Regions from separate parts of the Homo sapiens genome. Here all the other regions are linked to region 3. A link means that fine-mapping ties the variant in region 3 to the plasma level of a protein whose gene starts in the linked region. Region 3 holds a variant in brackets. A gene starts in each other region. All regions are shown on their reverse strands.

Region 1 (2,054 bases), not on the chromosome of region 3:
GCGTCCCCCAAGCTCTGGAGAGTTTCCCGTGAATTTATTTCCATCAAAATAAAAAAACAACCTAAGCAGTGATTTTAAAAACCAGTGGTACCCCCACCCCACCTCCCCCATTTCCAGTGGTTGGAAAGCCTGAGCAACAGAAAAACCAGAAGCCAGCCTTGGAGAAGCCTAAATACCATCAAGGAATGGTCTAGGCCAAGTATGACCCTCCTATCCTAGAGGCAAGGGGCAGAGAGGTTTGGGAAAAGGGCAGGCCCTGGAAACCAGGCCCCAACACGAGGGTACTGGGTAAGGGAAGAGAGGCTAGTTACCCCGTATCCTAGGTCCCCTTTAATCAACGGATACCAGATCTCATCCATCCTCCTCCCTGCACCAAGCTTCCCCCATATCAGCTGCTCTGGCTCTGGCACGGCTGGGGTTTGGTTCAATGTGGGTTCTGGTTTCTCCTTCCACCCCTCATCACAGACAATATCCTGTGCCAGGCAGCTTGGAGCTCACCCTGAGGCCAGAGCTGTGACCCTGCCTGCTCACCCTCCCCTTTCCACAGGAATCCGGACATCGTGGCTGGCAAGTGGGCACACAGAAATCTGGCGGGCTGGGGCGGGACTGCCCACAGAACTTAGGGTCTGGCAGCCAGAGCCGTCCAGGGCTGGTCCCTCGACCTGCCCCACCCCCTCCCGCACCCCTCCTCACAGTCCTGGGGCCACCGCCCGAATGTGGCATCTGCCAAGTACACCTCGGCGCCACTCAGCCGCCACCCTGAGACCCCTCAGGGGCGGGTCCTGACCACTAGGGTTGGGGATGAGGGATGGAGATATTTCGGGGCGATGAAGGAGGGGGGATGGTGCGACTGTGCTTGTGGCCTGTGGTTTCCAGGTGTGTTTGCCATTCCTGTGGGCCACTCTCCCCCACTTCCCACTTCTCTGCTTAGCCTTCAGCGGTGGAAAAAGGGGATGAGGGCGCCGGCGACAGAAACGCAAGCGGGGTTGGAAGAGAGGGGTGGGGGCGCGCCCGAGGGTGGGGAAGGAGCTCGGGTCTACCCAGGGCCAGCTTCGGCGCGTCGAGTCTGAAGTGGGAGACCGACGCCGGGGCGGCTCTCACGCTCGGCAGGCGCCGCACAAGCGCCCCTTTAAAGCGCAGGCAGCTGGCCCACCGCAGGGAGACGCATCCAGCTGTCCGGCCCCGCTTCCTCCCGCCTCGCATCCAGGGCACCCGGCCGAGCGTGTGTGGATGGCGCGGCGTGGAGGCTCAAACCTGAGCAAACAAATAAGTTGAGGGAACGCCTCCCTCTCTCCGATGTAAACTCGGGGCTCCAGACATAACTATTCCCCCTTCCCAGAAAAGCCCCGGGAAAGGCGGTAGGCAGAGGAGCACCATAGGAGAGCGGGGGGCTACAGCCGGGGCTCAGGGCTCGGGGCTCGGGGGCCACGGTCCCACCCCCTCATGCACGGTAGCCGGCTGGGGGAACGGCCCCGCCCCCTTCCCCGTGGAGGGCGGGGGCGCATCTCTGGGCGCGAGCGAGTTAAGCCCAGTGGCCTCGATGCTCCACGTAGGAGCTGGCTCGGCTGCCGGCTGCGGTCAGGGCCACCGTATAAAGAGGGCGGCAGACCCGAGCGCCTAGGACTCGCCGCTGCCCGCGCCCCGCCGCCGCTGCTGCCCCCAGCCCCGGCCCCAGGCGTCCCAGCCATGGTCCGCCCAATGCTCTTGCTCAGCCTCGGCCTCCTGGCTGGTCTGCTGCCGGCGCTGGCCGCCTGCCCCCAGAACTGCCACTGCCACAGCGACCTGCAGCACGTCATCTGCGACAAGGTGGGGCTGCAGAAGATCCCCAAGGTGTCAGAGAAGACCAAGCTGCTCAACCTACAGCGCAACAACTTCCCGGTGCTGGCTGCCAATTCGTTCCGGGCCATGCCGAACCTCGTGTCATTGCACCTGCAGCACTGCCAGATCCGCGAGGTGGCCGCCGGTGCCTTCCGCGGCCTCAAGCAACTTATCTACTTGTACCTGTCCCATAACGACATCCGCGTGCTGCGCGCAGGTGCCTTCGACGACCTGAC
Region 2 (7,888 bases), not on the chromosome of region 3:
CAGGCAGAGTTTCACCATGTTGGCCAGGCTGGTTTCGAACTCCTGACCTCAGATGATCCATCCACCTCAGCCTCCCAAAGTGCTGGGAATACAGGCGTGAGCCACTGCACCCAGCGCCCATACCCTGGCTCTGCTTTTAATCTTTATTATCTTTATTCTCAGGTAGGTTCTCCCTCTGAGATGTTAAAGATGGCTGCCAGCAGCTCCAGGCTCATTTGTTAGGAATGTGACAACCTCCATGGAAAGAGAAGGCCTCTAGCTTTATAATTCCAGCAAAAATCCTGGGGCTGCCTCTCACTGGTTCGATGTGGGTTAGGTGTTCTTTTTTTTTTTCTTTTGAGATAGAGTCTGGCTCTGTCGTCCAGGCTAGAGTGCAGTGGTGCGATCTTGGCTCACTGCAACCTCTGCCTTCTAGGCTCAAGCCATCATCCCACCTCAGCCTCCTAGGTAGCTGGGACCACAGGCGTGCACCACCACGCCCACCTAATTCAGGTGTTCATTTGAACCAATCGCTGAAGACAGAGGTGGTGTTCCGATTGGCCAGGTCTAGATCAAATGCCCACTCCACCCTCAGCCAAGGGATAGGGTAGGCTTTATTTTATGTATATTGACGCAGGGTGGGGAGGAGCGATTCCCCAAAGAAACAATGAGGGCCATTTCTAGAAGCAGGGAGAATGAATGGTAAACAGGAAATGATAGACATCCATCACAGGCTCTCAAATTATGTTTCACAGCTGTAGCTACCTTGAATTTTCTGGAAGTCAAAGAAGGGGCAGTAGAAATTGAGAGAGATGGAGAGATTTGAGAAATATTTATGTAGCCTGGTGCGGTGGCTCATACCTGTAATCTCAGCACTTTGGGAAGCTGAGGTTGAGGAGATAGCTTGAGCCCAGGAGTTTGAGACCAACCTGGGGAACACAGTGACACCTCACCTCTACAAAAAATTAAAAAATTAGCTGGGTGTGGTGCTGCACGTCTGTATCCCAGCTACTTAGGAGGCTGAGGTGGGAGGATTGCTTAGAGCCTGGGATGCTAAGGCTGCAGTGAGCCATGATCACGTCACTGCACTCTAGCCTGAGCAACAGACTGACACCCTGCCTCAAAAAAGAAAAAAAAGAAAAATATTTAAATAGTGGAATGAACAGAACTAGGTGGCTAAGTAGGCTGGGAGCATGAGGAAGAGAGAGCTCTTGGTTGCAAGCAACAGAAAATGACTCTAGCTGCTTCAACAAAAGGGAATTTACTTTGTGAGAAGGTCTTCGGGAGTTCACGGCATCAGCTCGAAGGAATAGGCTTGGAAATGTGCAGGAATTAAGAGCCACTGGAAGACTAGGAAGCAGGAAGTACAGTGATTTCCCTTGAGCAGACACGGAAGTTGTCCACCTAATATCCATGCCACCGCTCTTCCCTGTTTGCAGAGTCCCAGTTCTGTTCCAGTGGCCACTTTACCTCACATGCCTCTGACCCAGATCCAGGGTTAATAGGTTTAGGCCAGTGATGGGGATCCCCTTTTCCTTGCCAAACATGGCTTAGGGATGTCATGTGAGCCTGTTCTAGCTAAGAAAGCATGAGGAGAGGTCTGCTTGAGATTTGAGGGAGGGTTCCTCATTCCTAAGAAGGAGCTAGTGGAAGGGAAGGTGCCTCTTCTTTGCTTGAACATAATTGAGTTGAAGTGTGATTCCTGGAGCTGTGACAGCCATCTTGTGACCATGAGGGCAGGCAGCCTGAAGGTCTGCACACAGAAGACAAACAAAAAAAGAAAGAACTTGGGTTCTTGATGACATTGTTGAACCACTGAAAGCACTGTTCCTGGAGTCCTGCTGCTCCAGACATCTGGTGACATGGGATGATGAATTCGAATTGCCCTACTGCATATGCTTGGTTTTTGGAAGGCATCCTGACTTAATGCCATGTAGCCGGGATGATTTGGTCAGGGCACAGGTGGTGCAATGCCAGACCTCCAGCTTTTCCTGCCATCCTTGTGTGGCTTGATCAGGATTCAGAGCCCTGGGAGAAAACACTATTGGCTGAGTTTAGGTCCCTCTGGCTATACTATGGTAGGGAGAGGTTGGTCTGGTCCATTAGGCTTCCATAGTGGAGATGGTCTCTAGAAAGTACCCTTTCAGCCGGGTGTGGTGGCTCACGCCTGTAATTCCAGCACTTCGGGAGGCCGAGGTGGGCAGATCATGAGGTCAGGAGTTCGAGACCAACCTGGCCAACATGGTGAAGCCCTGGTCTCTACTAAGGAGACAAAAAATTAGCCGGGCATGGTGGCGTGGGCCTGTAATGGCAGCTACTTGGGAGGCTGAGGCAGGAGAATCACTTGAACCTGGGAGGTGGAGGTTGTAGTGAGCCGAGATCGCACCATGGCAGTCCAGTTTGGGCGACAGCGCGAGACTCCATCTCAAATAAATAACTAAATAAAAATAATAATAAAGTACCCTTTCACCACCACAGCTGGGGAGGGGTGATCACAAAATGAAACTGGGAGAGGAAGAGGAAGGGAGATGGATGTTGAACATCCAAATGACCATTAATGTCCACCTGACACCTCATCTCACACTCCCTACAAGGCACCTTATGCTCACCACATTCCCCATTTGACACGCTGCATTCAGGCTTCTGTGCAGTTGTATTACTCACTCTGCCTGCAAACCCCTACTTGTGGCGAAGACCTGTTCAAAAGGCCCCTTCCATGTAGAGGAACAGCTGCCTTCTCCCCAAGAGGAAGGAGCCAATGTGGGAGTGGCCTTAGGGCCAGGGTCTATACTCAGGAGCAATCAAGAACTGACAGAGCCAGGCATGATGGCATGAACCTGTAATCCCAGCTATTCAGGAGGATGAAGCGAGAGGATCACTTGCGCCCAGAAGTTCCAGGCTAGCCTGGGCAACTTAATAAGACCGAGTCTCTTTGAAACAACAAAAAAGGTGACAAAGGTAGTTTCGCTTTAATGACTCGTCAATATATCTAATAGTTTCACTTTCATCATGGAGTTAACAGCTGTCACGTCAATGACTTTGAAACCAGTTACCTTTGAAACCAGTGGTTGGAAAGGTGCCCCTCCTCTCCTGCCCTCCTCTTTCTGTGTTTCTGTTCCAAGAAGTCTTCCACAGCCTGCCTCTCTTCCAGCAGAATTAATAAATTGCTACACTCAGTCTTCATTTCCCATAAATTACTTTGTATAACTTAGGACTTTGTATAACTGAAAGTGACAGAAGTCCACTCAAATTGGTTTTATTGGCTCATATAACTGAGAAGTCTATTTTTTTTTTTTTTTGGAGATACAGTCTCAGTCTGCTTCCCAGACTGGAGTGCAGTGGCACAATCACGGCTCACAGCATTTTGGACCTCTGGGCTCAAGCAATCCTCCTGCCTCAGACTCACAAGTAGCCGGAACTACAGGCACGCGCCACCATGCCTGGCTAATGTTAAATTTTTTTGGAGAGATGGGATCTCACTATGTTGCCTACATCAGTCTGGAACTCCTGGGCTCAAGTGATCCTCAAGTGATCCCCAGCCTCCCAGAGTGTTGGGATTACAGGCGTGAGCCACTGTGCCTAGCCATAACTGACCAAGTCTTAAGGATACTTCTAGTTTTAGGATGTAGGCTCTCAAAGTCATGAGAAATCAATCCATCAGTACTAGTTCTCAAATGTCGTGTAACAAATCACCCTAACTTGTGGCTTAAAGCAACAACATTTAATGATGATTTATCACAGTTTCTGATGGTCAGTTTTGCCTTGAGGTCTTTCATAAGATTGCAAGCCAAATGTCAGCGAGGGCTGCAGTATCCACTTCCAAGGCAGCTTATTCATGTGGCTGTCCAATTGGCACTGGCTGTCAGCAGGGTGCTTTCCTTTCTCCCTACATGGGCTTCTCTGCAGGGCTGCATGTGTGTCCTCACAACACAGTGGCTGGCTTCCTCCAGAGTGAGCAACCTAAGAGACCGAGGCAGAAACTGCAATGTCTTTTATGACCTGGGCTTGGAAGTCCAACACCCTCACTTCTGCCATATTTTTTTTTTTTTTGAGACAGTCCCTGTCGCCCAGGCTGGAGTGCAATGGCACAATCTCTGCTCACTACAACCTCCACTTCCTGGGTTCAAGCGATTCTCCTGCCTCAGCCTCACGGGTAGCTGGGATTACAGGCACACGCCACTACGCCCGGCTAATTTTTGTATTTTTCATAGAGATGGGGTTTGGCCAACACGTTGGCCAGGCCGGTCTTGAACTCCTGACCTAGAGTGATCTGCCTGCCTTGGCATCCCAAAGTGCTGGGATTACAGGTGTGAGCCACCACACCCAGCCACTTCTGTCATATTCTGATGGACACACAGAACAGCCCTAACTCAATGTGGGAAGACACCATACAAGGGCATGAATCCTAGGTGGTGAGGATCAATGGGGGCTGTCTTTGAGGCTGTCTACCACAGCATCTTTCCATCCTTCCTGCCCTGTTTGCTTTGCTTTTCCTATGTGTAGGCTTCATTCTCAAACAGGCCCTCCCTAGAGAGTGACAAAGGTGATCATCAATGTGTTCAGACCCACATGCTCTGTGCTTAGTAACCCCAGTGCAACTTTTTTGCTTTCCCAAAAGTTCTGGCAAAAGTCCCAAGCTAGCACTTTAATTGGCCTAAATTGTGTATATGCTTATCTCTGAACCAATCACTGTGGATTAGAGATGTCATGCTCTGATTGACCAGACCTAGGCCACATCTCTAGCCCTAGCTCTGAGGGTAGAGTTGGCAGCACTAGAGCCCATGGAAGAAGTAAGAGAGGAGTCGTTGCTAAAGGAAAAATCAAAGTGTCATTACCGAACCAGGACAGATGCTGGGCAGCACATGTGCACCCCGTCTTCTTCTCATGTTCCAGCTGCACATCTTAGTGCCCCTTGGTTTAGCACTTTTCTCATTAAATCATTTGCTTTCTTGCCTCACTTCCTGTGGTTGGTAGAATGCTAAGATGGCCCCAAGATCTCTACCCCTGGTGTTTGCACACCTCCCAGTTATTCTGTCAAACATGAATGTAGATGCTTCTGTGAAAGAATTTTGCACATGTAATTTAAGTCCCAAATTGTTTGACCTTAAAATAAGGAGAATGGCAGGGCCAGGCATGGTGGCTCATACCTGTAATCCCAGCACTTTGGGAGGCCAAGGCGGGCAGATCACGAGGTCAGGAGATCGAGACCATCCTGGCTAACACAGTGAAACCCCATCTCTACTAAAAATACAAAAAATTAGCTGGGCGTGGTGGCGGGTGCCTGTATTCCCAGCTACCCAGGAGGCTGAGGCAGGAGAATGGCGTGAACCCGGGAGGCGTAGCTTGCAGTGAGCCAAGATCGTGCCACTGCACTCCAGCCTGGGTGACAGAGCCAGACTCTGTCTCAAAAAAAAAAAAAAAAAGGAGAATGGCTTTGGTGGGCCTGACCTAGTCAGGTGAGTTCTTAAAAGGCGACACATGGCCCGGTGCAGTGGCTCAGGCCTGTAATCCCAGCACTTTGGGAGGCCGAGGCGGGTGGATCACGAGGTCAGGAGATCGAGACCATCCTGGCTAACATGGTGAAACCCCGTCTCTACTAAAAAGACAAAAAATTAGCTGGGCGTGGTGGTGGGCTCCTGTAGTCCCAGCTACTCGGGAGGCTGAGGCAGGAGAATGGCGTGAACCCGGGAGGCGGAGCTTGCAGTGAGCGGAGATTGCGCCACTGCACTCCAGCCTGGGCGACAGAGCGAGACTCCGTCTCAAAAAAAAAAAAAAAAAAAAGAAAATTAAAAGTGGGTATTGTTGTAAGATGCTGAGTTTATGGTAGTTTGTTACATGACAATAGAAAATGAACACACTTCACAGTGGACTCCAAGATCCCCATGATCTTTGATCTCCTTAACCTCCTGATCTCCACAGGACCCAGAGCATAAGAATGTCCCTTCTTCTGCTTCCAGTCCCACTATCTAGAAAAGAGAGGAGGAGCCCAGCTCTTCATTTCACCCCCACCCACAAACTCCCAACTTTCCGGCCCTCAAGGGGTGACCAAGGAAGTTGCTCCACTTGGCTTTCCACAAACAGCCTGTGCCCCACCAGGCTCAGGAGGGCAGCTTGACCAATCTCTATTTCCAAGACCTTTGGCCAGTCCTATTGATCTGGACTCCTGGATAGGCAGCTGGACCAACGGACGGATGCCATGAGGGCTCTGCTGCTCCTGGGGTTCCTGCTGGTGAGCTTGGAGTCAACACTTTCGGTGAGTGCTGTGGGAACCAGGATTGTCCCAGGATTGTTCTGGGGGGTCGCTATCACAGCCATGAGCCATGGCCTCTGCTCATGACCTGTGGGTCCAGGTGACTAGGAGGCCTATGTGGAAAGGTGAGGCCAGCCCGGAAGGCCCAGGCAGAGGAGACAGACAACCAGACTGGGTGGATACAAGGGCACAGCCTGCATTTCTGGGGGAGATGGGCCTTAAGAAGACAACGGGGGGAGGTAGAAAGGGTTTGGGTCTTGGGAAGAAATCTCTGCATTTCTGGGCTGTGAGAGGAAGCTGCAGACTAGCAACAGATCGGTGGCAGGCTATGACTTATAGTCAGTTCCCTGCCTTCTTCTCTCCCTTGTAGATTCCACCTTGGGAAGCCCCCAAGGAGCATAAGTACAAAGCTGAAGAGCACACAGTCGGTAAGTGGCCTGGCTCCTCCTCCCGGGAACCCTTGGGTGGGGATGTGTATGGTGCAGTGTGTGCAGTCTCAGGGCAGTCTAGTCTAGTGCCTACCTGGTGCTAGGTCTTATGCCCATGGGCACTAGAGTGATCGTGAGCTGTGTGATCCTTGAGGGCAGGGTATGGGCTGTGTCTAAGTGCCCACGAGCCTGGCTCGGAGCAGGTGCTTGAGATATGTGCTGCTGGCGCCATCACACCTGGGCTCCTGCCAGCCTTCCTCAGTTTCCCCAGCTTCTCCCCTTCTTTTCCTTTCCCCAGTACGTCTCATGGGCATCATTCATGCCACACAGAGGCCAGGGCCTTCAATGGGCAAGGAAGGATCAAGAGCTTGTCTCTGGCATCTGAATGCCTCTGAAGCCCAGCTTTATCACTTATGAGCTGGGTGACTCTGGGCGAGGGATTTGAGTTCTCCAAGCTTCAATTTCCCCTTCTGTGAAACCAGGTTGATAACAGTAAACCTCTTAGGGTTGTTGAGAAGGGAAACCCATGTGAGGTATTCAGCCCATCACCTGGTGCATGGAAATGCTTTACAAATATTAGCTTTTATTATGAAACTACCTTTTAGATGAAGGGTACCTGCCATTTCCCCCTTCCTCAAGCTCTGCCATAGCTCCCCATTGCTTTCATTCTTCCAGACACTAAATTACCTACATGCCAGGCATGGTGGCTCATGCCTGTAATCCCAGCACTTTGGGAGGCCAAGGTCGGTGGATCATGAGGTCAGGAGTTCGAGACCAGCCTGGCCAACATGGTGAAATGCTGTCTCTACTAAAAGTACAAAAATTAGCCAGGCATGGTGGCATGCGCCAGTAGTCCCAGCTACTCGGGAGGCTGAGGCAGAAGAATTGCTTGAACCTGGGAGGTGAAGGTTGCAGTGAACGAAGATCACACCATTGCACTCCAGCTTGGGCAACACAGCAAGACTCCGTCTCAAAAAAAAAAAAAAAATTTACCTAGAGTGTGGCACATAGCAGGGCCTGTGAACCAGATGGACCTTACCCTGGTGGGCCTGACTTGGTGGGGTTGAGTCTCTAAGCATGGCGTTGAGGCCCAGCACATTCCAACCCTGGACTCCCTCAGCCTCCTCTCTTCACCCCACACCCAAAAGTTTCTCCTCTCTCTTGCCTTACCCAAACTTGGTGCCCTATCCTTGCCTAATCCCCTGCCTAAGGTCCCCCTCCTCTCTGTCCG
Region 3 (7,822 bases):
TGCGTGCAGGCAGGTGAGTCTGTCCCCAGCTGTCCCAGGTCCCTTCTTCTCACTGGGGACAAGGGCCCAACCCCGGGCAGCTGGGGGTGGAGATAGCTGTTCTGGGCTGACTGATGGGGACGTCTGGAGGGTCCTGGGGCTGAGAGCTGGAATCTGAGGGATGGGGATGTCTTGGGATCCAGCCTCTGATTCCATTCTAGGCACCCTCCCCAAACCCACCCTCTGGGCTGAGCCAGCCTCTGTGATAGCTCGGGGGAAGCCCGTGACCCTCTGGTGTCAGGGGCCCCTGGAGACTGAGGAGTACCGTCTGGATAAGGAGGGACTCCCATGGGCCCGGAAGAGACAGAACCCACTGGAGCCTGGAGCCAAGGCCAAGTTCCACATTCCATCCACGGTGTATGACAGTGCAGGGCGATACCGCTGCTACTATGAGACCCCTGCAGGCTGGTCAGAGCCCAGTGACCCCCTGGAGCTGGTGGCGACAGGTGAGAGGACACTCAGGGGTCCCAGCCCCAGGCTCTGCCCTCAGGAAGAGGGTCGGCTCTTAGGGACGTCTACCTCTCACAGCCCAGCCCTGGGGATGATGTGGGAGGTCGGAGCCCCACTTAAGACGTGCCTCCTTCTCTGCTAGGATTCTATGCAGAACCCACTCTTTTAGCCCTGCCGAGTCCTGTGGTGGCCTCAGGAGGAAATGTGACCCTCCAGTGTGATACACTGGACGGACTTCTCACGTTTGTTCTTGTTGAGGAAGAACAGAAGCTCCCCAGGACCCTGTACTCACAGAAGCTCCCCAAAGGGCCATCCCAGGCCCTGTTCCCTGTGGGTCCCGTGACCCCCAGCTGCAGGTGGAGGTTCAGATGCTATTACTATTACAGGAAAAACCCTCAGGTGTGGTCGAACCCCAGTGACCTCCTGGAGATTCTGGTCCCAGGTGAAAAAGCCACCACACTTCTTTATATAATTTTGGGGAACCAGATAGGTTGTTGGGAGTTTGGTTGATGACTGATCATGGCAAGGACCCCAGAAGGATGTGTTGATGGATGGGCTGAAGGCGTGAGGAAGACCCCACGGGGAGGCTCAGATGGGGAAACAGGAGCCTGAGTCACCCTCACCTGGAAGGGGTCGACTCAGGAAGGCAATGGGTGTATTTGCTGCAATTTCCTGTCCCTCAATGAGGAGAGGACAGACCAGACAGACAGTGGCCAGGAGTCAGAGAGACACTATCGGTCTGGAACTACTCCAAGACAGACCCAGGTGAGAAGGAG[G/A]CCCCGGGATCCGAGACACAGAGCGTGAGAGACAGTGAGACCTGCAGGGCCAGGACGCCAGGACGGGAGAAGGAAGGGGCGGGGGAGGAACCAGCCTTCCAAGTCCCAATTCCTCTTTCCCTCCAGGCGTGTCTAGGAAGCCCTCCCTCCTGATCCCGCAGGGCTCTGTCGTGGCCCGCGGAGGCAGCCTGACCCTGCAGTGTCGCTCTGATGTCGGCTATGACATATTCGTTCTGTACAAGGAGGGGGAACATGACCTCGTCCAGGGCTCTGGCCAGCAGCCCCAGGCTGGGCTCTCCCAGGCCAACTTCACCCTGGGCCCTGTGAGCCGCTCCCACGGGGGCCAGTACAGATGCTACGGTGCACACAACCTCTCCCCTAGGTGGTCGGCCCCCAGCGACCCCCTGGACATCCTGATCGCAGGTGAGGAGCCCAGCGGGTTCAGTCAGGGACCCAGGCTCTGCACAGGTCCTGCCGGGGGAATCCAATTAGTGATGGCCGGGATGAGGCGGGGGGGTGGTCCCAAGGGAGGGAGAGACAGACAGAGACAGGGGATGGGTGGGGAGGGGAAGACTCAGAGAAAACAGAGACAGAGGCTCCTAGAGAGGCCTGGGGAGGTCTCAGCTCAGAGCAAGGTGGGGCAGCCCCTCACCCATCCTTCTTCTCTCCAGGACTGATCCCTGACATACCCGCCCTCTCGGTGCAGCCGGGCCCCAAGGTGGCCTCAGGAGAGAACGTGACCCTGCTGTGTCAGTCATGGCATCAGATAGACACTTTCTTTTTGACCAAGGAGGGGGCAGCCCATCCCCCGCTGTGTCTAAAGTCAAAGTACCAGTCTTATAGACACCAGGCTGAATTCTCCATGAGTCCTGTGACCTCAGCCCAGGGTGGAACCTACCGATGCTACAGCGCAATCAGGTCCTACCCCTACCTGCTGTCCAGCCCTAGTTACCCCCAGGAGCTCGTGGTCTCAGGTGAGGGCCCTGACCCTGTCCTGTCCAAGCTCAAAGGCTCAGCTCAGGCCCTGCCCCCAGGAGAGCTCTGGGCTGGGATGGAGTCGCGGTGCGGGGGGGAGGGTTTGAGGGGGGCTCAGCCAGAGGGAGACTCACCCCTCAGAGGGGAGGAGGACAACGGGGGCTCCCCAGGCATGCCCACACTTGGCCCCATCTCCTGGGATGCAAATGGTGAAAGGTGAGCAGAAGAAAGTTTCCAGAGAAGCCACGGGCAGGTGGAGGGACGGGTTTCCTCACTCAGCACCAAAGCGCCTCGCTCCCTTTCTGTGCTTATTCCCAGGACCCTCTGGGGATCCCAGCCTCTCACCTACAGGCTCCACCCCCACACCTGGTGAGTCACTGAGGCCTCTGGGCTCGGAGGGAGCGTGGTCTCCCCCCAGGCAGCCCTGAGTCTCCCCGAGGATCCTATTCCCCTCAAAGACTCAAGCGGGAGCTTCCCTCCAGGGAGCTGGGCAGAGCCAGAGGAGGGGCCACAGGCTCCCCGGGGCTCTGAGGCTGGGCCGGTGAGGGGGCGGGCGTCGAGGCAGAGAGAGATGTTGGGTGTTGGGGCCCAGCCTGGGGGAGGAGCAGCCGGGCTGATGTGGGGAGCAGGGCAGCCCCAGCCCTCACCTCCCCGTCCTGACCCAGCAGGCCCTGAGGACCAGCCCCTCACCCCCACGGGGTTGGATCCCCAGAGTGGTGAGTGAGGGGCTCTGAGTGGGAGGTGGGCGGAGACCAGGGGAGGCAGGGGTGGGTTCTGTCGTAGGTTCAGGCTCCTCTGGAGATGGTGAAGTGCACAAGCCCTTCCCCTGCCTGGGCCTCAGTTTCTCCAAGTGTAAAGGAGAGAGGCCTGCATTGATGGGATTCTTCAGGGGACTGTCCTGTCCCACCGGCAGCAGTGACGGTGACCTGGGGCAGGGGAGGGGAGCAGGGCCGTGGTTTGGGGCATTCAGGCTCTTTCCCTGCAGCTCCGGGGCTCCGCTCAGGTGCAGAGAACAAGGGCTGCGGGTCAGACTCCTGGGTTCACTTCCCAGCTCTGCCGCATCCCACCGTGGGCCCAGGCAGGTCAACTTTCTACTCTGACTCAGTTTCAGCAGCTGTAAACTGGCTCAGTCCCATCCAGCTCACAGAACTGCTGCGAGGCGTAAGCAAAATCATGGGACCTGGCCCTGTACACAGCTCGGCAGGGGCACCGTCCTCCTGCTACCCTCAGCCCTTCCCAGATACACACAGAGCCCCTATCCAGACAGGTTCTGCATGGGAGTATGGGAACTTGGCAGAGTGGGAAACGGACCTGGCTGAGCTGGGAGTGAGAGCAATGCAGGGTCCGTCCTGCACAACCCACTCCCTCTCCCAGGCCCTGCTGTGCTGGGGAAGGGAGGATCCTAAGAAGGACACCAGCCCCAGATGGAGACACTAGGACAGGCCCCTCCTGTCAAATAGGAAACAGGTGTGCACCTGGTGGGGCAGCAGGAGGACAGCTGGGGAAAACACAAAGTCCCTGGTTCCCTTCCCAGACCTGCTTCTTCCAGGCTGAGGAGCCTGGGGCAGGCGATTCCCCTCTCTGAGCCTCAGTTTGCTCCTCTGTGAATTGGGGGGTTGGCAATCCCATGTTGCACAACTGCTGTGAGGGTTGGAGCTCATGAAGGAAAGACCTAGCTCGCGCCTGCACACAGAAGGTGCTCACATCAATGACGTCATCCCCATTCCCAACGTCATCACGCTCAAGGTCTGGGAAGGCACCTGGGGGTTGTGACTGGGGTCTCAGTGGCCTTCGTCCTGCTGCTGTTCCTCCTCCTCTTCCTCCTCCTCCGACATCGGCATCAGAGCAAACACAGGACATCGGGTGAGTAGGGAATGGGGGAACCCGTGGGCCGACCGAGGGTGGGCTCGGGGCACCAGCCAGAGGGAAACCAAACACAAAGGAAAGTCAGCTTAGAAAAACTGCTCCAGAAATTCCCAGGTGAAAAATCGATCGAGAAAGAAGAGAATAAATGTGAGCATGTGTGGAAGTGCTTGATTCTTCTGATTTTACTTTAAACTTACGACGTATTTAAAGCCTCAGTGCCAGTGGGCCTCCAGGTTTCCTTCTTTCCGCTCGAGTTGTGTGTGCAGGGCAGCTGGTTCGAATTCTCCCAGGCCTGACCCTCTGTCCATCTCTGTCCAGCCCATTTCTACCGTCCTGCAGGGGCTGCGGGGCCAGAGCCCAAGGACCAGGGCCTGCAGAAGAGGTAATTCTGCATGAAGACCCAAGACTCCCATCCACCCGCACAGCCCCCTCACTGCCCCTCACACTCCCGTGTCCTCCCCCAGGGCCAGCCCAGTTGCTGACATCCAGGAGGAAATTCTCAGTGAGTGACTAGAAGCGGAGGGCACCTGGGGTGGGCAAGGGAGCACCAAAGTTTCTGTAGCAATGGGGGCAGGAGCACAGGCTGGGGGGGGTCTGGGGCCAAGGGGGAGGCGGTCTGAACCCACACTGTGGGACCTCAGGGACATCACAGTCCCTCCCTGGATCTCAGCCACCCTAGTGGGAACAGGGCAAGGGCTGGCAGGACGGAGAAGTCTCAGAGAACCTTCCCAGGAGATGAACCCCTTGCTCTGGCCCAGCAGATGCTGCCGTGAAGGACACACAGCCCAAGGACGGGGTGGAGATGGATGCTCCGGTGAGGCCCCGCCCCTGTCCCGGGCACCAAAGGCCTCCTGGTGCCAGATCTAATCCAGCAGGACTTCTCTGTCCTCCTTCCCCCGGCTCTCAGCATCGTCACGGTGGACCCCTCCTTGTCCAGCACGCTGCCTCCCGCCTGCTGCGACCTCACTCTCTTCTGCTGTCCTGGGACCTCGTGGGCCTCCTCCCGGGTCCCCTTCCTGCTCCTCATCCTCTGTTTGGCCGTCTGGTTGTTAGAGCTCTCCCCAGGCCTCAGGAGGATGAGGAATAAATGAACCGACCCGGTCCCCCAGGCTCCCCTTCATTCATTCAACCAGCGAGTGTTCCCAGGGAGCTCACTGTGGATGGGGCTCCCCATGGGAGCTGCAGACACAGCAGGGAGCAAAGCCGCCCCCGCCTCCTGAGCTCACCTCATGGTGGGAGACAAAATGCAAATAAATGCATCGTGTCCAGGAGTGCAACGTGCTGTAAGGAACATAAACCAGGGAAAGGGCAGAGAGTGTGGGGCAGTGGGGCCAGTCTGAATGGAAGGGGAGGGCTGTCTGCTCAGCTGTCATCTGAGAAGCCTGGACAGAGTGGGGCACACGATCCTCTGATGGACGAGCCCCTGCAGGCAGAGGAAACAGCCGTGCAAAGGCCCCGAGGCAGCAGCGAGCTCTTGCGGGAAGGCCCGTGAGGCTGCAGCCAAATGGGCAAGGTCAGAGTGAGGAGCAGAGGCCAGAACCACAGGGAGGGAGCGGCCAGACCCTCCACGGCCTTAGGGCGTCCCTGAGATTCCATCAGGAAAGGGATGTAATCGGATCACCCCGGGAACAGTGAGGAAAATTGACTCCAGGAGGTCAGGGGGACTCAAGGACACCCCCCACCACTGTCTCTCTCCAGCAGAGCCCACACGATGAAGACCCCCAGGCAGTGACGTATGCCCCGGTGAAACACTCCAGACCTAGGAGAGAAATGGCCTCTCCTCCTTCCCCACTGTCTGGGGAATTCCTGGACACAAAGGACAGACAGGCAGAAGAGGACAGACAGATGGACACTGAGAGAGTCCTTTCCTCTCCAGGCCCCCAGGCCTCCCCCACCCCCACCACGTTCCTTCCCTCTCACTCTCCCCCGCTGCAGGCTGCTGCATCTGAAGCCCCCCAGGATGTGACCTACGCCCAGCTGCACAGCTTGACCCTCAGACGGGAGGCAACTGAGCCTCCTCCATCCCAGGAAAGGGAACCTCCAGCTGAACCCAGCATCTACGCCCCCCTGGCCATCCACTAGCCCACGGGGGACCCAGATCTCATACTCAACAGAAGGAGACTCAGAGACTCCAGAAGGCACAGGAGCTGCCCCCAGTGGACACCAATGAACCCCAGCCAGCCTGGACCCCTAACAAAGACCACCAGGACATCCTGGGAACTCTGGGACTCACTAGATTCTGCAGTCAAAGATGACTAATATCCTTGCATTTTTGAAATGAAGCCACAGACTTCTCAATAAATCAATGAGCTGAGAAAACTGAAACAGAAATTAGAGCATGGTATAAATTTGGAATGATAATGTAAATATTACACATTAAATGATGAAATCGGAAAACTACAAATGAGCGAATGAATTAGAAAAGAATAAAACCTACGTAATTAATGACCTTGGCAATGACAGAAAGAATTTAGAAAAAGAACAACAAATTATTCCAAATGAAGGTGTGAGGAAGGGGACAAAAATAACAAGAGGAGTTACTAATGAGGGCTACGTGAAAACTCGATGAAGCCAAAAAAGCTCATTCTTGAGAATGTGAATTACATTCACAAATCCTAGCCACAATAAGCAAGGAAAAAAGCGGGGTTCAGGCACACATTTCCATATGGGGGTGAAACAGCAGACACCACCACAAATCTGACACATATTGCCTTTATTTTTTTCACTTTTAAGTTCAGGGATACATGTGCAGGTTTGTTAGACAGATAAACTTGTGTCAAGGGGATTTGTCTTGGTTTTTGTGTGAGGGTTTTTGTTTTGTTTTGTTTTGTTTTTTGAGACGGAGTCTCGCTCTATCACCAGGCTGGAGTACAGTGGAGTGATCTCGGCTCACTGCAACCTCTGCCTCCCGGGTTCAAGCGATTCTCCTGCCTCAGTCTCCCGAGTAACTGGGACTACAGGCACCTGCCACCACGCCCGGCTAATTTTTGTATTTTTAGTAGAGACAGGGTTTCTCCATGTTGGTCAGGCTGGTCTCAAACTCCCGACCTCAGGTGATCCGCCCGCCTCAGCCTCCCAAAGTGCTGGGCTTACAGGCGTGAGCCACCACGTCCAGCCCATACATTTCAATTTTAAAGGGATGCGCCCTAGTCCTTAGTTAGTCTCTCCTCATCTCTATAAAATGTTCAGCTACTCACCTCTTGGGCTATTGCTAGACATCGTTTTCTCTTCCTTCTTTCTGACGCCTACAATAGATAGGACATTCCCCCTCCTCATTCTATTCTCCCAAGTACTTTAAATTGCAATTTATAAAGTTTCTATGCTACACTCTAAAAAAAATTCTGTTTTGTTTTCTAATTTCATAATTGGTGCTTCACTGTGTCTTGTCCTCGAAGGAATGAGTATTTTGATTGTGTTCATTAAATCTGATTTTTCTATGTCTTCTAATTATTTTATATAATATTCATTCTGCTGTAGAAAAAAAAATCATATAATCCTGCCTCAGAAATTCAATGTCCTCTGTATTTCTCAAATATTTAAACATGTTTAACCTAAGATGGGTCTCACACATTCCTAGTACTCCTTTTGACCATGATAATCCTCATTAGTGAGTGTGGATTGTCAACCATAGCACTTTGTGTTTGATTTTTTGGTTTGTTTTTTGTTTTTATTTATTTATTTATTTATTTTTTGAGACGGAGTCTCACTCTGTCACC
Region 4 (7,990 bases), not on the chromosome of region 3:
GGGCTCATCAAACTGTAGACTTGATGAAATTTATTGCATATAAATTATACCTCAATAAATCTGACTTTAAAATGATAATAAGGACAAGAGTTAGCAATATGCCTGCGGGAATTAAGTGACTTGTTGCATGCTGGTTCCCGCAGTTGTCTGGATTTCCCCTCCCTTCTTCCTGCCCCACCACAGAAGCACGGCAGTCCTCCCGCACTTTCTGGTGAGACTCAGGTGATGGGACCAGCACTAGGCTAGAGACCACTCAGGAGGGTGGGAGGTCCAGGTGCCAGTTCCAGTTCAGCTTCTGATGTTAACTGGGGCAAGTTACTGAGTCACCCTCAACCTCATTGCAAAATGAGGACTTTTCACTTCTTTCCAGGCCTATGATTCTAATTTGTAGTCTGAAAAGGAATGAAGGCTATCCAATGAGTGGTGTGTCCACACCGTGAAGGTCTGGGGAAAGGACAGGGCCCTAAACCCTCCCATTCTTCAGAGGCCCCTTTTTCTACCCTCAGGTACTGTAGTGGGCCCTCTGACCCTCACCAGCCTTAATCCCCAGGAGTTCAACAAGAGAAGCAAGTGGTTCATCATCACCCCATAAGGCCACACCCTGTGATTCTTATAAATGAGGCCAGTAGACAGTAGCTTCCAAAATTCTTTCAGTATCATATGCACTCTGTTGTCTTAGCAGGCATGGGCAGATCCCATTTACAAATGTTTAAGAGCAACGCAGGATCCCCACACAAAACAGCAGCCTCCACCTAGGCTCCAATATCTGACCCACGGGAGCTCCACTCTTCAGCCTCCAGGAAGACACCCTACAAGACATGCTACACACCTCTGCAAACACAGTGTTCTGAGCTCAGTTTCTGGTCCTGAATATCAGAGTTTAAATTTCCATTCCACCGCTTACTAGTTGTGTGACCTTGGATGAGATATTTAACCTCTCTAAGCCACAATTTCTCCTTCAGTAAAACAGTGATAATAATAGTCCCCATCTCCCAGGGCTATTGGGTTGATTAAATAAATCACTGTGCATCCAGTTCTTAGAACAGTGTAGCAAGCACTTAGTGTTAGTTATTATGATTTAATTTCACTTAATTTGAAAACTGTCATTTCTTGTAAGTCTTGGCAAATGCAGAGGTTTCTTTATTAATGTTCAATGTCAAAAGATGAGCTATCTTGGGGTGAAGAGAAAGGTTGCTTGTGTTGAACCCAAACTAGACTCAGACTTGAAGCTGCTACTCAGTTTTTTCTCACCAGAGGTAGGTGCGGATGGGGAATTTCCAGGTTGATTTTGAATCCAAGACTTCTCCAACAATGCTATACTTATCAAAAGTAGATTTAGGAGTATGAGGAGATAGGGAGGGTCATCCAAATAAGACAGAACCGCTCCAGTATGCCTGCACCGTGGCCACGATACCTTCAAAGTACTGTCTATGTACCAATTTCTGTTGAGGAAACAAGGTACAAAGAAACTCCCATATGGATACTAGCAGGATTTGCTAGTGTCTGGGGAAGATTATAAATTAGCTAGTTGCTGCTCACATCAGAGCCAAGCAGGGCACATTCAGTTTTTTAATCTGGACCAATTTTCCGGATCAAAAACTAGTCTTTCCAAGGGATGTAAATGAGCCCAGGAGGGAAATTTCCCCTGAAGTTATGAAGTAGCTGTCATTTTAATCTGAGAAGCTTTCCAACCTGAAAGCTAGTGTCTGGATAAAATTATAAAGTAATAAAAATAAAACTCTTCTAGGTTGAACCTAGTCTAAACACTTCTATCTCAAATTTGATGTAATTAATATGCCAAAGTATTTAAGAGGTGGTGTTTCCACTATCAAAACCCTATCTATGCTTCAAATAAAACCAAAGAGGCCAGCATGGCATATTCCTGGCATGAATATCAGAATGAGACCCTGAATGAACCAGGTAGAAAATCTTTTTAGGAGAAGAACTCCAAAAAATAAGAAGGAAAATATGATGACCCACATGAGCAGTTTTATACAACAGGTTTTTATAAAATGCTTTTTAAAAATTCCCCTTAAATGGATTAAAATATATCCTTTAAAAAGCATTGCATACACTGTTCATGCTTTAAAACTATAGATATAACTATGCTTTGTTTAAAAATTGTGACAATTAATAGATGATTTCATGTGAATAAATCTGCAAAATGCAATTGATCGTGATGTGGTTATCTTAAGGAGGAAAGTTAGAAAGAAGCCCTTCACTGAAATCCTTGAAGGTATATGTATGTGTGCGTGCAGGAAGAGAAACAATTTAATGTGATATTACCTTGGACTGAAGCTATTATCTCCAAAATGAATTGAAGAGCTCATAAATGGAGTGGCTCATAATTTAAATATGGTGTAGATTATGATAATGACCTTAGATTTCAAGGCAGGTAACAAGTGCTGGTAATAAGAGACACAGTGCAAAGACTGAGGACGCTTCCAGAGCCGAAATGCAACAAGTCATATTTCCAGATAGAGAGTTTCAATGCGAAAATATTTAAGCATTCACATGGGATCCCGCTAAGACGATTTTCTCTGCCCTCTGATAAATTTTCCTAGCTTTGCCTCTTTCTTACAGAAACGTTTGTGAAGACAAACTGCACTTTCTGTGAGGTTTTGCAGACTGCATTCAAATAAAAGTAATATTGTTTTCCATTGTTCATAAGATATAATTAATCCCATAAGACAACCTCCCTTACAAAGTAAGTTAAGACAAAACAGATTTTTCAGAATTCTAAATATGGTCCCAGCAAAAAGTAATAAAAATCGTTATTTGGGAAACAATGTTTAGAACTTCATTGTTCAGAATGTTCTACTTTGAATAATCTCACAGCATAGGCCAAATCAAAGTAGACCAAAATAAACGAAGACTTTTTACCTATATGCAGCTAGAGGAAACACACGTTATTATGGTTTCAAGTTCTCCCCCAATTCCCAGTCCCTTATAACAGGTTACAACGTACATTTCTTTGTTTAAATGCCAAAGCAAAGACAGGAGTTCAAAACACGGTAAAATTAACCCACTGGGTGCTTCCTTCTGAACAAATGGCCCCAGAGTGGAAGAGGATGCTAAGAGCAGAGTCCACATCCCTGCACAACGCGTGGGCAGGACCCGAGATGGGCAGAGGGGGCTCCAGGCAACCCTTCAGACACTTAACAGGAAATGGCTGGGCTCTGGACAATATGAATTGAGTAAAATGTTTGGAGACGCAGGAGGGGCTGGTTTGACTCCTCTGCATGGTTGCCATCCTCTGTAATTGAGACAGCACGATCGCTGTCCCAACTGTCAGCTCTCTGCGGTCAAACACGGGGACCACCACCTCTATCTACTATGTCTGGAAAATTGATCATTCTTTTAATAAATAAATATCCCTAGCGCCGCCCGGGCTCGGGGGAGGGCGAGGTTTGCGTCTTTTCTCAGCTCCTGGCAGAGCTGAAGCGAGTTAAGCAGACGTTGGTCGGGGAGAGGGAGGCGGTGCGCTGCCCGCTCTGTGTCCTCGCCCCGGAGCCCAGCAGGGGCGCTCGGGGCGTGGTGGCTCTGGGCGGAGGAGCGCATTACCTGGTTTTCGGATGGCCGCTCGGAGCGACACCGCGCCGGGTCCGAGGCTGGAAGCCAGGAGCAGGAGCCGGAGCAAGACGCCTCGGATTAAATCCATTTCGCAGCCGGCGCCTGCAAAGTTTCACCAAGTCCCGGGCGCACACGGAAAGGGCGTCTCCGGGGGCGCGTGGGGGACGCGGCCCCAACGGATCCCCGGGCCGGGGCGAGGAGGTGGGGGGCTGCGAGGGCTGGGCCCGGAAACACGGGTAGTTCCAAGAGGTAGGACTGCAGCCGGGAGGTCGGCGTGCGCGAGTGAAGCCGGCTGCAAGCTGCAGGGCTTTTCGCGGGGGCGGGGGCGACGAAGGAGGCCGACTGGGAGGGAAGGGCTGGCCGCGGGAGGGAGGGAGGCTCGACCGGCCCGGGGATGAAATTACAATCGAGTGGAAGTGAGAGGGACAGGCCCTGAAACCTTCACTCCTCGCCCACCTCGGAAGCAGACAGCCCGCCCCTCACCCTCTCTAGCGACCCCCAGCGCAGCCCTTCCCCGCTGGTGACCTAGATTGGGGACCTGGGAGGGACCGACTTCAAGCACTGGAGACGCAGGGCAGGAGTTAGGCGACTGCGGGTCCAGGACCCTCCGCGGTCCTCACCCTGAAATCTTGGGGCGCCCCCCCTCCACCCCACCTGGGCCCTCCTCCTGCCGCGCCCCTCTAGGCGACTTTTTCTAACACCTCAAAGGTTGCTGTAGTTGGTCCAGCGCACTTGGGGGATGCGAGGGGTAGACGGGGGTCTGTGATTTGCAAGTGGGGTGGGGGTGAGAGGAAGAGAGGCGGGACCGTCCGGGTCTGAGGCGCTAAGAAGATAAATGGGATTTAAGGCTCGCAGATGGAGAGCTGAGGCCAGGCCGCTCAGACTGGGACGCCGGGTGGAGATTAGGGCCTGGAGCGGGGGAGTGGGGGCCCTTCCCGGCAGAGGAAGGCAACTTGAGACCCTCCTGGGGAGGAGATGAAACTCCAAGTTAAGCCTGGCGTCTTAGGGAGGGACGCGAGCTCGAGCCCCCAGGCGGACCGAGAAAAGCCCCTGGGCGGCGCCCAGCTGGGCCTGGGGCAGGGGGCCGGGGCGGGGTCCTGGCCTCTGATCCCGGGATCGGGCTTCCTGGGTTGTCTCCTGAATGGAGAAAGACTCTTTCTCCGCCGCTGAATTTGCTGCCCTAGGACTCAGTAAAATGTACCTTTTGCCAGATTTCGCGGTAGTGCCTGGAGAGGGGAGACCCTGCCTGGGACACAAGTCCCGTTGCATACTGGCGTTCTGACCTCCAAACCAGCGAGAAGAGAAAGCAGATACAATAAATAAACCAAGAGGGAATAAACTTAGAGGCAAACGCGGCCCTCGGCAGTTCCTGGGGAAAGATCAAAGGCCGTAGGAAGTGCCCCGCAGAGGAAATCTGCAGTCACTAGCGACAGGACCGCGCCCGCCCCCTCCCCACCTTGCAACGCTGCCAGGACTCGGTGGGCGTCCTGGCTCTTCACAGTTAGCCTATGTTTGGGAGCGCGGGAGGAAACAATGTTGACTGATATATTCTTCTCCCCTCCCCAGCCCCCCAAACACACACACACAGGATTTCTACTCCTCTTTTAAGAATGAAATATCCCCTGGCTGGAGAGTTTGTAATGAGCTCAATCTTGTTAGTTAGCAAAGCTGAGTGTGTTCCCTTATGTGTTGGCATTTTCAAGTGTGCAATTGTCTGTTCACAAATAAATTCAAAGTCCCCTCCAACTTGAGTATTTGGAAGTTTTAGCTGTGACACCAGAGCTTGTCCTCTTACATAGAACTGGAGCAAAGTTCAGACAGAACTATGCTCTTCACGTCCAAGGTGACCATAAAGCCGGCCACTAAGCTAAGCAAAGTGACTGCCCCCAAGGCTGCTAGTCTCAAAGGTCTCAAAATCATAGACTTTTTAGCATTTTAAAGGTCATCTAGGCCATGCCTCCACTCCACGCAGGAGTCTGCTTTCAGCATTGGTGTCGGGTCGTGCCACCTCCCTTTGAACTCCACCTGTGTGAGAGAGCTCCTCCAGCGCCAGCTGAGAAGTTGTTAGAGGCCTTTCTTTATGCGAAAGTGATTTCTTATCTCGGACTTAATGTGGCACCCAGAACCAAGCGAGTGTTGCAATGCAGATGCCTCCCATGCAGGCTTTCCTACTTAAAAATGATTCTCTGTGATGCTGAAACTGGAAGTAATAATAATCGTTGATATTATGGCTACCATTTATTTAAGGTCTCCTATGTACCAGACCTTCTTTGAAGTGCATTTTAATCCCAATAACAACCATACCAGGAAGATACTGTCATTACTATTCTCGCCTTTTACAGGTGAGGAACCTGAAGCATGGGAAGGTTAAGAAACTTGCCCAAGGTCATGCAGCTCCCATGCAGCGCTTGAATCCAAGGGGTCTGATTCCAGCTTTCAGGCTTTTGAGAGAACAATGTGGAAAGTAAACACAGCAGTGGACTGAGAGGATCGGGAGATGTGGGTGTTTAATCCTAGGCTCTGCGTATAGTGTGCCTTGGTAAAAATGAATGGGCTGGACGAAACAATCAGTAAATTCCAGGTTTTGCTTTCTCTTTAATAGCTGATAAAACAGCATCATCTAATCTAAGCTACCTTTACTCTGCATGTGCCTTTTAACAGACCCTGTGCAAATTGTCCACTGCAAATTTCGCAAGCCTGGGCAGCCTTCTTGCCAATGTCCTCCTCATGTGCCCACACCACCTCGGCATCCCTGGCCCTGGGCCTCCCTTCCATTTTTTTGCAGATGACCATAGGCGATTTGGGAAATAGGCTTGGTTTCTTCAGAGACCCCTCTTGTTTTTTCCTTGGGGAAAAACAACATTAGATTATACTGTTGTATTTTTACCTCTGAGGGCCTGCAAACACTCTGGATCATCAGGCCATTGAGATAAGACCTTATTTCACAAAATCTGCTTCAAATCTAGAGCACATGTTACATTAAACTTATTCCCTTCCTTTGCAGTTCAAATCGCATCCTCCAAGGGAACTGGAAGATTCCCTCTCCTTCCAGTTTGAAAACCAACTATGGCATTTGTAAATCTGACTAAAGACAAATAGAACACTTGCCTTTCACTCTCTTCCTGCTTTCTGAGAGGAGGGGAACTAAAGAGGGGCCAAGAGGCTTTGAATGTTTCATTAAAAAAAAAAAAATCTGTTCAAATTCACTGGAGGTCTAAACTCAATTAATAAGGTCACCAGCAGAAGAGTGACCTGCCTACTTTGCTCATTATCATGGAAGAGGAATCTGACCTTTGCTGCATGGAATAGATTTGGAGGCTGGTAGAAGAAAGTAAAGGCAAACTTATCAATTATAGAATGTTTATTAAGACTCTAAATGAGAGTGACAAAGAGGCAGCAGCCAAGAATCATCTTTTGATTTATTTTTCTAAATTGGTTATATCTACATGTAAAATTTGAAATGCAGATCAGGCAGAGTGTATAGTGAAAAATAAGTTTCCTTTTCTTCCTTCTACCATCACCAGTTTCTTGGATATCCTTCTAGAGATGGTCTATGAATGGACAAGCTAATTATATACACATATATTTAACGCAACCAAGAGCATCTTCTACGTACTTCTTAACCTGATGATCCTTCCAAATCAGCAGATACAGATCTGCCTCCTTCTTACTAACTGCTGAATAATATTCTACATGTGATATGTAATTTATTTGTTCTTTCTTCTGTTGTTTCCAATTATTATAAACAGCAGGCATGAATGACACTGAATATGTAATAAGTTGCACATGTTATAGTAGACTGTAGGGTTCATTTCTAGACTAACCATGCTCGGTCAAACAGTAAATGCCTTTTCAATTTTGATAATTTGGCTACATTTCCTCCCAAGGAGGTTGTACTATTTTACTCCCCAATAAGCAGTATATGTGCCTAACTAATTCCGTGAACTCTCACCAACGTAGTGTCTTATCAAACTAGAAATATAAATATACATATATTTATATGTTACATTTTAATCAAGATGCAACATACAAAAGTATCAAATAGTAAGTGTACCAATTGATGAATTATAGCAAAGTGAGCACACTTGTATAACTTTATTAACTACTGCCCAGATCAAGGAATAGGATATGACCAGCACCCCCACAAAGCCCTCTTCATGCTTCCTCTCTAGAAGTGTGTATTTTTGAAGAAGGATGAGGGATGAGAATTCTAACCTCCCATTTACCTTTAATTAAAACACACAAATAAAAGTAGATCAGTAAAAATAAGTAAACACTCTCCCTACACCAATGTAAAACAAACATTGAGACTGAATCCCATTATGTGTAAGTCTCTGTGCTAAGAACAGAAATAATATATTAGAGAAAATGCAACAATATTTTTTGCACTCAAGAAGACTACAAATTTGTTGGGAGA

Direction of the effects. Alleles are on the strand shown, and positions count from the first base shown. The strength of an association depends on the size of the effect and on how common the allele is.
For the plasma level of the protein whose gene starts at base 1,620 in region 1, allele A in region 3 goes with a higher level than allele G (strong association).
With allele G in place of A in region 3, the plasma level of the protein whose gene starts at base 6,139 in region 2 is higher (strong association).
As copies of G replace A in region 3, the plasma level of the protein whose gene starts at base 3,857 in region 4 goes up (strong association).

The links. PIP is the posterior inclusion probability: the model's chance that the variant is causal. The UK Biobank Pharma Proteomics Project read protein levels with antibody pairs (Olink). The fine-mapping took linkage between variants from a reference panel, not from the people measured, so its PIPs are less certain.
Region 1: it holds the start of CHAD, and the variant in region 3 is fine-mapped to the plasma level of the CHAD protein (UK Biobank, PIP above 0.99).
Region 2: it holds the start of F12, and the variant in region 3 is fine-mapped to the plasma level of the F12 protein (UK Biobank, PIP above 0.99).
Region 4: EGFLAM starts here. The variant in region 3 is fine-mapped to the plasma level of the EGFLAM protein (UK Biobank, PIP above 0.99).

What each region holds. Positions count from the first base shown.
Region 1 is chr17:50,468,446-50,470,499 of GRCh38, reverse strand. It overlaps CHAD (chondroadherin), which reads left to right and starts at 1,620. Exons shown (of 4, transcript NM_001267.3): 1 at 1,620-2,054. The coding sequence starts at 1,687. The region is part of intron 10 of ACSF2 (acyl-CoA synthetase family member 2); the gene reads right to left. RefSeq lists enhancers at 747-1,704, 1,705-2,054.
Region 2 is chr5:177,407,815-177,415,702 of GRCh38, reverse strand. It overlaps F12 (coagulation factor XII), which reads left to right and starts at 6,139. Exons shown (of 14, transcript NM_000505.4): 1 at 6,139-6,232; 2 at 6,600-6,657. The coding sequence starts at 6,176.
Region 3 is chr19:54,249,152-54,256,973 of GRCh38, reverse strand. LILRB5 (leukocyte immunoglobulin like receptor B5) reads left to right here. Exons shown (of 13, transcript NM_001081442.3): 2 at 1-13; 3 at 201-485; 4 at 632-931; 5 at 1,392-1,688; 6 at 1,937-2,239; 7 at 2,559-2,609; 8 at 2,906-2,956; 9 at 3,987-4,103; 10 at 4,425-4,488; 11 at 4,571-4,608; 12 at 4,868-4,920; 13 at 6,042-7,553. The coding sequence ends at 6,188. Among named protein-coding and RNA genes, the nearest start is that of LILRB5, 4.2 kb to the left of the region's middle. RefSeq lists an enhancer at 4,863-5,480. The variant G/A (reference allele first, on the strand shown) is at 1,266.
Region 4 is chr5:38,254,426-38,262,415 of GRCh38, reverse strand. EGFLAM (EGF like, fibronectin type III and laminin G domains) reads right to left here and starts at 3,857. Exons shown (of 22, transcript NM_152403.4): 1 at 3,565-3,857. The coding sequence starts at 3,661. LOC124900966 (a long non-coding RNA gene) reads left to right here and starts at 3,750. Exons shown (of 2, transcript XR_007058739.1): 1 at 3,750-3,822; 2 at 4,785-5,319. RefSeq lists an enhancer at 4,726-5,227.